Linked DNA regions of Homo sapiens. The protein of the gene in region 2 interacts with the protein of the main gene of each other region in a pairwise test. Each region holds a gene or a part of one and is shown on either strand. Other genes may lie near its edges. The genes, in order: OTUB2, MID1 and CRY2.

Region 1 (3,600 bases), on a different chromosome or scaffold from region 2:
GCATGCTGCCGTGGTGACCCATTTTCCTGCCCAGTCATAGGAGAGAGGAGGCTAAGCTTGAAGAACCAGGCATCTGTGCACACCCATTTCCAGGACTCTGTTGTCACAGGAAAAGCTCCAGCTAATCATATCACATGGTTCCCATGACACAGATGTGCAAAACGGTGCTGAGGGGGAGAGCGGACCAACCAAAGCCTCTTCGCTTTCCAACAGGTGGAAGTGAGACTTGAACCTGGGGCTGTGTGGCCCCGACTCAAGCCACCCAGCCCTCACTCCACAGGCTCCCCCTGCTCAGGGTTGAAGGGTCTTAGGCAGCCATGCCACCCAGTCCCCTGCAGGATGCCTGACCCCACGGCAACCTGGAAGGTGAGCCGATGTAACACAAAGAGCACTGAACTGAGAGTCCAGAGCCTGGGTTCAAGCCCCAGGTCCACCACAATCAGTACCAGCCCTGCCCTGTCTGGCCTCAGTTTCCCCACCTGCCCAAGCCCAGGGTTAGCCTGGCTCAGAGGGTCTCTGGGCCTCGTTCTGCGCAGACAAGGCTCTCCATCAGGGATTCCTGAGTATTTTCTTTTCCCCGACCCCTAACTCATGCGCCTCACAACTTGAGGCATCCTCTCTAGGTGGGTCCTGACTCCAAAGATGGAGACGGTCTAGTCGCCCACGGAGCAGACGACCTGGTGCCCCGTGCAACCCCTAGATCCTCCCTTGGGGTTGGGGCAGGGGCCAGGAGGTCTTTGACGGCCGAGCCGTCGGGTGGGTGGGGCCGTGGACTGCTGACTGGGGGGCTACTTAACAAAGAGGAGGCGACCCGTAGTGCTGCAGCCTCCCTGTCCCTGCTTCCGTCGAGGGCGCCCACCCAGCGCCGTCGAGGCGGCGCCCCGGGCCACCTGGGGCGGACACGCTGGGGGCGGGGGCTCGGGGCCGAGCTGGACCTCCTCAGCTGCACATCCACGGGGTACAGGGGGGCGCGACTTGGCCCTCAGTATCCGTCCGGACTCCGTATTTCAGGGGGTCGGAAAGCGGCGGGGGCGAGCTGGGGGCTGAGCCTCGCGTCCGACCCCCGTCCCGCGGGTGCACCCGCTCCGGCAGCGACCCCGCCCACCGCGCCCCCTGCCCGCTCCCCCTTCGCGATCCCCCACGATCACTGACCATAGTGACCAGAGCCGCCAGGCCAGGTCCCGCCCCAGCGAGGAGCGATCCGGTGCGGGAATGCCGCGGGAGGCGCGGGCGGGCTCCGCCGCTGGTTCGGTGGCGGGGACCTCGAGGGCGTGGGGGCGGCGGAGAATACACCCGACCGCTCCGCAAACCAAAGGTTAGACCTCCACTGTGTCCCAGCAAGACACACGCCCTGCGATTGACGTCTCAGGCGGGCAATCAGAAGCCGGGACGCGGGACGTCATAGAAAGTGGGTGGGACTTCACGTGCCTTCAGCCTATGCGTTAGGGTCCATTTGATAGGATGCCTCCCCCTTTTAAAGACACAGGAAAGCTTTTAACTAGCAGAGGAGTTAGCTCAACCCAGAAAGACAGGTCCTCGTTTGTAAAGGCTGAAGGGCTTTTGCGCAAACCTAAAATTGGAGTCTTCTGAAGGATTAGCTGGCCGTCATTAATTCATAAACAAGGTCACATAAGTATAGTTTGCACAAGATCAGAGGATAGGCGCTTAGGGAACACGTGTCCAATAACATTAAGTATGGCTTCTATATAATATTTTATCCTCTTCCAACTCATGAATCAGTAGGTTGCCACGCACCCAGTTAATGTTTGTTGAATGAATGAATGTCCAGGATCGTTGACTCTGTGGCTCTGGAATTGTAGGGATATCCGTGAACCAGGTCTAGATGACTCATCTTGCCTACAAGCTCATTATTAATGGACATCAAAATAGGAATATTTATCATTCAAAGATTCATTCACCAGCCCTTGAGTCCTGGAGGAGCTGCTTGGGTGTGGGAGGGAGAGTTTGTAGGGGAGGGGGGCTCAGTGCATTGCATGCATCCACTTCAAAAAATTAATATTTCCAGGAGCGTGTATTGAGCAATTCCCCTTCCTGCTGCTGCCCCCCGCCCCCGCCCCCCGCGCCCCACTCTTACTACGTAAGTCCCAGGTACTGGGCTAGGCTCTGGGCATACAGACATCTGAGTCTTCCAAGCATGTATCATGTCCTGGGCAGGGAGTGTGAGGTCAATGGAGGCTCAAGGAGCAGTAACAATAGCAGGTAATTTTTTACAGTTATTTACACAGTTATGCAGAACACCTACTATGTATCAGGCGCTATCCTGAACTCTCCACATATACAGAATTATCTTACTTAATTTCCTCACAACTGGTTTAAGGGGGTAGGTCCTGTTATTATTATCCCTGTTTCACAGATGAGGAAACATGTACAGAGAGTTTACGTTCCTTGCCTTAGTCACATAGCACTGAAGTGGGATTCAGTCCCAGGCAGTGTGACTCCAGAGCTGGTTTCGAATTCACTCTGCATGTGACTACAGGGGCTGTGTTACCTGCCTCCGCCCCTGACCCCCATTTGTTTTCGGGGGGTTTCTCGCTCTTTTTTTTTTTTTAACCGCCAAGGAAGCCAGAGAGGTGACAGGAGCAGCCCAGTGCTGCTGAGCTAAGAAGTGGCCTGGCTGGGCTGGATCCCTGGACTCCTGACTCCCCAACCAGTGCTCATTCCAAGGCGTGTTAGCTTCCCTCTGTGGAGGAATGACTGAGCCAGGTTCCATGGTGTCTGAGTGAGGGGTATGGGTGAAGAGTCTTTTCAGCCAAGGCTTTGATGAGCCCTCAAGTTTGGCTGCACTAAGCCCCGAGTCCTGGGCTCACTCTCTGCCCTTCTTCAGGCCCCAGCAGTTCCAAACCAAGCCAGCATGGGAGTGTGGAAGGAGCACTGGGCTGGAGTCCATGAGGAATTCTGGGCCCTTGGGCTCTGCCACTCACTGCTGTGTGACCCCAGGCAATGCCCAGGCCCTCTCTGGTCTTCTGGTTCCTCACTCAGTGAGAGGGTTGGACAATCTGGGTGGTTAAAAATGTTTTGTTTTGTTTTGTTTTAATATTTGTAGTAATGAAGGCTTTAAACACACACACACACACACAATCTTACAAGAATCTCAGTGCATGCGTAACAGAATATTTCCTCAAATTTAGCTCAATTCGCAGGGAAAATGTAATTTCCTTAGTCTAACTAATCAAGATTCCTCGTAAGCTCTCTAAAGCCTGGTTAGAAGGAAAAAAGTTGCAGAAGGGTTCAGTGGGTTTTCAAGCTGGGTCTGCATCGAAAATGCAGACAGCGTCGTTAGGGGCCGCCCATGGCAGGGGATCCGTGTGTTCTGTCTGGAATGAATTTGCTCCAACCTTCCTGCACCCCTTCTCCCTGTTGTCCAGGTGTCTGGGTGGAGGGATCGGGGAATGGCAGCTGGGGCTTCACAAGTCCAGAGAAGCAGGAGGCTTTGGGTGTCCTGTCTTCCAGCAAAGGACCTGTGTACCTGGGTACTAGATGCCCAAGATTTGAGGGCTGGGTTCTGCTGCCCATGCCACTCACGGTCTGGCCCTTCTCAGCCTGGTCAGACCCAGAGAGCTCTCCGGGGTTGACGTCATC
Region 2 (3,822 bases):
CCAGCTAAGGACCTTTGTCAAAAATGTTTTGCGTTCCTCTTTTTCCTTTTCAATCCTTTCCAATTACCCTTCTCCTTCCTTTTCCTCATCCCACTTTAGTAGACATTAAAAGTATGAGGTTGGACTGTGAGTTTGCAGAACTTAAAGACGTCCTCCCCACAGTCCCTACCAAGGCAAGGGCAATTCATTGCAAGCAGACGGCACTTGCTCCTCCGCAAGTGTTTTTCTGCACTCACTGAAACTTGCCAAGCCTGCTTGCTGAGCGAACAAGCGAGGGGGCAAGAAGGCGGAGGGTTTGCGCTGACCATTCGAAGGGGGCTCTGCTTCATCTCCCAAGGCTGTGGGAAAGGGACAGAAAGTTCGAAACCCCTCCCCTGCGCTCTTAAATGGAAAGCTCACTTCCCCCAAAGTGTGCAGGGTGGCGAGCACCCAACCCACTTAGAAGAAAAAGTGAAGAGCTTTTCCGGTTGCGATACAGATGCTAACTTTCCCATCCAGATTTATTCAGAGCTGGTAAAAGCAATAGCATTCCTCTTGAAATCCCTGCCCTTCCAAGCCTATTGGCATGTTTTTCCAGCCTTGTTTTCTCCTTATATGAGTATTGTTCTTGATATTTAAATATTGACATAAAATTCTTCCATAACTTTGATTGAGTTGTAAATCACACCCTCTCCTTGGCTTCCTACATCCACTTTTTCTTTCCTTTTCTTGCTTAACAGCAAAGCTATAAACCTCTTCCTGGACTGATAAGGAATTTTATCATCATGCCCCAGAGCCACAGAAGAAGCTGTTGGTTTAGAATTCTTTTCAAAGACTCATTTAAGTAATCCCCCAGCCCTTTCTCCGCTCACTACTTTCAGGGCTGCCTTCTCACGTCCAGAAGCAATACAGTTTCCAAACTGCTAGAACAGAAAAACAAATTTGCATTTTTCTGGAAGGACTGTCTGTGCTCATTTCAAGCTGGTTCCGCCTTCTCCGCCAGAAACACAGTAAGTGCTCAGAATGCGAAACCAAAATGAGATAAGAGGCCCCGTGAAATTCTTTTTCAGGACATTCAGCTGTCTTTATTCTAGCCCAAAGCATAGGGTAGAGGCACTAAAAGCTCGAGATACATCCTGCACGATACATTCCAGCGGCCGCAAACTGGAATTGATTTACATATATTCTACAAACTGCTTGTAAGCCCTTTACAACGACTGCCTGACATCAACCACAATTAGAGGCAAAAGTGGGGGCGGGTGGCGAGGACCAGACCGGGGTGGCTCAGGTAAAATGTGCTTCTTTGGTTGTCTTAGGAAAATGCAGCCCCGTCTTTCCGCCAAACGCATCGACTACGGCCAGGCGCCTGCTAACCCAGCAAGCTCTCCGCAGTAACACGTCGCAGGGGTCCCGGGCGGCGCCCGCCCCCTCCGCCGCCAGCGCAACCGCCTGAGCTTACCTGCCTCATGTTTAGAATCCCATGACCCATCCGGCAGGGAGCGAGCTGCATCGGAGCCCGCGTCGCAGTCTTCAGAGCGGAAACACCGAACCCGACAGGAGCCCGCAAGACAAAAGCAACCCGGCGAAATCTACGGGCAGCAAAGAGCACGTTTTCGTCCTCTTTTTCTTTGATCTGTTGCTACACGCACTCTGCTCGAGACAATGTCAAGTTTCTCAACCTTTTCTCCCCCAGCCTATGAAAAGTCGGTCGCAGGGAAGCGAGGACCGCCTGGCTCTTATTTCAAATCAGTTCTCAGAGACGTTGTAGGTGGCTGGCTTGGGCCGCGGAGGAGCTTCGCCAATCAGAAGCAAGGGGGTGGGTCCTGGGAGCCAGAAAGGCTGCCTCCGCGAGGATTAGGGGCGCTTTCGGGATTCAAATGACTGGAAGCAGCTGGAAACAATGTCCAAAGCTCCAAAAGTAAAGGATGAGTTCTATTCTTATCTAACAGCTCTAGTTCTGCTAAAAGCTTAACTAGCTAAGGGCCTTAAATCCTTGCATTTTAAGAGCTCCCTAACAGCATTAAAACATTTGGAAGGTGCAAAATTATTTCAGCCAGAAAAGTTCAACACTCAGGACCCAAGGGTATTTTTAAAAGGATATCTTGCACTGAAGCCCTACTTTTGCAAAAGACTGGAAAGGAAACCAAATTGTTATGAGTAACACCTTAACTAAAACGAACAATCCAGAAAGGAGGGTGTTACCTACCTCATCTGCATATAGATTAACTGTATATTCAATTTAAGAAAAATAAATCTTAATGGGAACGTGCACACAATTTTTTTGAAATGCAGCAAATGAACAAGAATCTTTACCTACTGAAGGCCCGAGGCATAATTTCAAATAACACTATTGTCATAGAACAATACACACTGACATTTTGTTCAGAAAAAAAAAAATTTAGTGCATCCACCTTTCTCTATGGTTTGGCTTCCCTACAGGGTTGATCTGTTGAACTTATTAACAGGGACAAGCTGGACATCACCTTGGCAGGATTGCAGGAGAGCTGGAGAAGTAGTTGGCTTCTTAGAAACAAACTCAGACCAAAAAAAATTTCCAAAGTTTGCTTTCTTAACTCCATATAAGCAATAACTTTTTTCAACTCTTAGCCAACATGATTTTAATGTAAATCTACCTTCTGGATTTCAAGAAAGTGCAAGTTGAGCAAAGAGTACTTTGTGTAGAACTAATGGCATATTTTCCCCCAAGAAATGACCGCAATTTTGTGACGATAATTCAATAAAGATTTTAAATGTGTTGGTATCAGAGGAAAAAAAATTACTTAGCAAATAATGCATTGGTGGCTTCAGGAGTGTCAGCTGCATGGGTTCAATACATGTGAGCTCTGCCCAGTTCTGTGAAAATTTGGTGGTCCGATAACTGGGCCTGGAAGCCCATAACGCTAGCCCCCTGCCTGAGTAGCCTAAGGAGCCACCTAGTGACACAAACTGACTTCAGTCCACTTCTTGTACTTTTCCTTGAGAGCCCTTCATATGATGGAGTTCAGGATTTCTCAATCTCAGCACTATTGACATTTTGGGCAGGATAATTCTTTGTCGTGAGGGCTGTCCTGTGCACTGTAAGATGTGTAGCAGCATCCCTGGATTCTGCACACTAGATGCCAGTAGCACCCCCACAATCGTGATGACCAATAATGTCTCCAGACATTACCAAATGTCTCCTGGGTGATGAAATCACGCTTTGAAAGGGTGGTTCTTAAACTTGAGGGTGCAAGGAAACCTCTGGGGAGATTGTTAAAAATGCAAATCTCCAGGCCCCTGCACCAAAATAATCTGATTCAGTAGGTTTGCTGAGGAGCCTGAGAATCAGCATTTTATCCCACTGACAAAGGACTCTGATTTACTTTGAGAAATATTGCGTCTATCCCAGCCCTAGGTATGCCCCAGCCACAGGACACAGGAAGCTACCCAGGGCTCCTGCCATTAAATACTGGAGCTTAATCCCATGGCACATCTGTTTATCACCTTCAGTAGAAGCTACAACTGCGTCTGCCTTCTGCTTTCATCACCTCAAAGGTAAATATGAGCTGGGATTTCCTCTCTCAAGGACTGAGCCCTTTTAATGTTCCTTCCATTTTTATTCTCCTTTGACTCACTCACCAACTATCCAACAATCTCAAATGTCACCACTCATTCGTGATTTCCCCAAATGCCCCAAGAAAAATTAATCCCTTCCATCTTCTATGCCCTTAAAGCAAAATACCCTTATAAAAGAGGTTTCAGAGAGCCTATTTGCCCCTTCTGCCATGTGAGGACACAGCAACAAGGAGCCACTGATGAAGCAGAGAGCCCTCGCCAGACACCAAATCTGCTGGCACCTTGATC
Region 3 (3,822 bases), on a different chromosome or scaffold from region 2:
TGCTTCTTGTCTGTATAGCACAGCCCTGTGTGCAGCCCCTCCACACCACTCCCTCCATCACTGATGGGCAACTGCTGTTCCTGGACTCCCCTTTTGAATGCTGTGGACACAGCTCCAGAGCGGGCAGCTATGCTCTTCCACTTCAGACTGGCTCCAGCCTCACCCTCTCCATGCCTCTCACCCTGGGGACCTCGCCCCTGTCCACCAGCTGCCAGAGGATATGCCACCTCTAGGGTCACACCTGAGGCCTGCTTTTCTGCCTGTCCTTCTGCTCTACATGATGGTCTGGGCTTCATTCTGGTGGGCAGTTCACTCTGTGCTTGGCTCTGCCCTCTTGGATATTGAGTCTTCTCTCCTCCTCCGGACTATCTGCACACACTTAGGCCCTTCCAGGGGCCATAGCCCAACCCCCACCCACCAGTGCCTTTTTTAGGGTGACTGACAAGCCCAAAAGGCCTGGCTGCAGGCCTTAGGTGCAATGTGGGCAGGTATGTCCCCCTTACCTTTTTATACAGGTCCCACAGGCGGTAGTAGAAGAGGCGGCAGGAGAGACAACCAAAGCGCAGGTAGGGGCTGAGGCCTGTGGGGCTGGCCAGGAGGGAGTTGGCGTTCATTCGGGGTCTCTCATAGTTGGCAACCCAGGCCTACAGCAGAAAGAGAAGGTGGCAAAAGGAAAGGCTTGGATGTAACAGAGGAAAAAATGGAGGCATTGGGTGGTTAAGGAATCTGCCTACGGTCACAGAACAGCCAGCCATGGAGCCATGGAACACTGTGCTTGTCCAGCCGATTTTGAGACGGAACCACCATCAGACCAAACAACGAGTCTATGTCATTCTCTGACTTGCTCTTTAATTTGTGGGGTGACTGTGAACACGTTGTTACTTCCCTCAGCTACGTATCTATTAAATAAGAACAAAATTTCCAATCTTCTGTGGATTAAAATGAGATATGAAAGAATTCTGAAAGCACTGAATGAACTCTCTAATTATACAGCAGGAAACAAGGCTTCTATGTTACAGAAAAGAATATCTCAGTCCCTTCTCTAGTCACTAGCGGCCCTGAGGTTGTATCACAGACACCAGGGACTTCGCATTATTGTTCAACAGCAGCTGGGGAAGGAGGAAACTTCCAATCCATTCCTGGGGACCAATGGAATCATTCATTTCTGGGGCCATGTGTCATATAACATTACTGGTCATGTTTTTATCATCACTGGTTGCTGGCATAGGACTTTACTTTCCTGACTTGCTGTTCCATGCAGTCTCTCACGACTTTTTTTATTTATTTTTTTTTCTTTTTTGAGACAGAGTTTTGCTCTTGTCACCCAGGCTGGAGTGCAGTGGCGTGATCTCGGCTCACCGCAACCTCCACCTCCCGGGTTCAAGGGATTCTCCTGATCGCCCACCTTGGCCTCCCAAAGTGCTGGGATTATAGGTGTGAGCCACTGTGCCCGGCCTATTTCCACTTTCTTAACTCCCAACATCCTCTCCTCCTCTCCATGATACTGTTTCACAACCTTGACTCTCTTCAGCCTCCTGAGTAGCTGGGATTATAGGCACCTGCCACCACACCTGGCTAATTTTTGTATTTTTAGTAGACATGGGGTTTCGCCATGTTGGCCAGGCTGGTCTCTAACTCCAAACCTCAGGTGACCACAAGGCTGGTTCCCACAAGAGTCTCCTGTGACTTCTGTGCCACTGAGTCCTGCAGGCACTTTCTGACCTTGTATTTTGGGATCTCTCAGCAGCGCTATACCTGCCAACTGTGCTGTCTTATCCTCTTGATTCCTTGGCCTCTGTGACTCCACATCTCCTGGTATCTCCCAGCTGCCTGGCGCTCTTGGTCTTTCATCAGCTCCACCTCCTCTGCCTCTCCCTTAAATGTGGGTACCCAGGGCTCAGCTCTAGGTTCTCTACTCAACTGTGTGCCTCAGCAAGCTCATCCAGGCCCATGGCTCCCAGTTCCACCCCTTTGCAGACAACCACCACATCCATAGCTCTAGCCCAGATTGCTCCACCCAGCTGCCTGCTAGAAACCTCTACTTGGCTGCCTCTCAGGCAGCTCAAGGGAGATGTGCCCTTTTCTTTTAACCCACCCTTCCATTGGCCTCCCTACCTCAGATAATACACTGCTAGCTACCTAGCTGCCCAAGGCACAATCCTAGCCATCACCTTTGTCCCCTCACCAAGTCCTGTCAATTCTACTGCCTAAATATTTCCCAAATCTGTCCTTTTCTTTCCATTCCCTGCTGCCACCAACCTGGTTCAGGCTAAGGTCATATCTAGACTGGACAACTGTGGCAGCCTCCTGACTGGCCTCCCTGCGTCCACTCCCATCCCCCGCTAACTCATTCTCCACGCTGGGACCAGAGTAATGTAATGCCTGTTGCTCGGGATAATGTACACAGTGGGCTTCCTGTTGCTCTGAGGACAGAGCCCAAATCTTCATGAAAGCTTCTGTGGCTCCCCAGCACCCAGGCCTTTCCAGCTCTGTCTCTTGCCCCTTTTTTTTGAGACAGGGTCAGGGTGGAGTGCAGTGGTGTGATCTCGGCTCACTGTACCCTCCGCCTCCTGCTGCCCCTCTTCTTTACGCATCTGCTCTCACTGGCCTTTGCCTCTGCACAAGCAGCTGCCTCTGGACCACTGTCTTCCTTTCCCTCACCTTCACCTGGTTAACTGAGACTCTTCCTTCAAGTCGCAACCTCAAGGCTTCCTCCTCTGCAGGTAACCCCTGTGGTATCAGGTTAAGCACTTCTAACAGATACTAGGTATTTTTGCGTGTACACACCCTTGCTAGCCCCCAGCTTTTAAAATATTTTTATTTTAAATGAAACTTGGATACAGAAAATCACACACATGTGTGACTTAATGAATTATTCTAAGGCAAACATCCACGCAATAGCCACCAAGGTTTGGGAAACAGAGCTTTGACAGCCACCCCAAGAGTCTATGTGCTCATCCCAGGAATAGTTCCCTCCTGCCCCCCAGTATATGCAACCCCTACCTCAGCTTTTATAATAAACACGTTCTGCATTTCTGAAATGTTTACATTTTTCTATTTTGGCAAAACGTTTGAAAGGAAGGACTTTATCTTTTCACAGTTATTCTTTGTGTTTAAGTAGCTTTTTTTTTTTTACCCAAATGTGCATTCCTAGGTATTACAATTTAGTCTTGGCCATTTAAAAAACTTTATTTCTGCCCGGGTGTGGTGGCTCATGCCTGTAATTCCAGCACTTTGGGAGGCTGAGGCAGGAGGATCACTTGCGGTCAGGAGTTTGAGACCAGTCAGGCCAACAGGGTGAAACCCTGTCTCTACTAAAAGGACAACAATTAGCCAGGCATGATTGTGGGAGCCTGTAATCCCAGCTACTCAGTTTTCTTTTTTTTTTGAGACAGAGTCTCATTCTGTCAACCAGGCTGGAGTGCAGTGGCATGATCTCGTCTCACTGCAACCTCCGCCTCCCAGGTTCAAGCGATTCTCGTGCCTCAACCTCCCAAGTAGCTGGGATTACAGGCACTCGCCACCATGCCTAACTAGTTTTTGTATTTTTAGTAGAGATGAGGTTTCACTATGTTGGCCAGGCTGGTCTCGAACTCCTGACTTCAAGTGCTCCACCTGCCTCGGCCTCCCAAAGTGCTGGGATTCTTTTTCTTTTATTTCTGAGACCCCACTCTCTGTCACCCAGGCAGGAGTGCAGTGGCATGACTTCCTGGGCTTAAGTGATTCTCCCACCTCAGCCTCCCAAGTAGTTGGCACTACAGGCACATGCTGCCACACCCGGCTAATTTGTTTTTATTTAGAGATGAGGGCTTGTCATGTTGC

What was found.
Region 1: the proteins of MID1 (region 2) and OTUB2 interact in binary tests that used the Homo sapiens proteins (3 or more experiments, as listed by UniProt).
Region 3: the proteins of MID1 (region 2) and CRY2 interact in binary tests that used the Homo sapiens proteins (3 or more experiments, as listed by UniProt).

What each region holds. Positions count from the first base shown.
Region 1 is NC_000014.9:94,024,093-94,027,692, reverse strand, and holds the start of OTUB2 (ubiquitin thioesterase OTUB2), read right to left. Parts: upstream 1,354-3,600; 5' UTR 1,156-1,353; coding exon 1,153-1,155; intron 1-1,152. UniProt on the Homo sapiens protein: Hydrolase that can remove conjugated ubiquitin from proteins in vitro and may therefore play an important regulatory role at the level of protein turnover by preventing degradation.
Region 2 is NC_000023.11:10,618,852-10,622,673, forward strand, and holds the start of MID1 (E3 ubiquitin-protein ligase Midline-1), read right to left. Parts: upstream 1,735-3,822; 5' UTR 1,439-1,734; exon of another isoform or gene 1,296-1,438; intron 990-1,295; exon of another isoform or gene 850-989; intron 1-849. UniProt on the Homo sapiens protein: Has E3 ubiquitin ligase activity towards IGBP1, promoting its monoubiquitination, which results in deprotection of the catalytic subunit of protein phosphatase PP2A, and its subsequent degradation by polyubiquitination.
Region 3 is NC_000011.10:45,864,434-45,868,255, reverse strand, and holds part of CRY2 (cryptochrome-2), read right to left. Parts: intron 645-3,822; coding exon 504-644; intron 1-503. UniProt on the Homo sapiens protein: Transcriptional repressor which forms a core component of the circadian clock.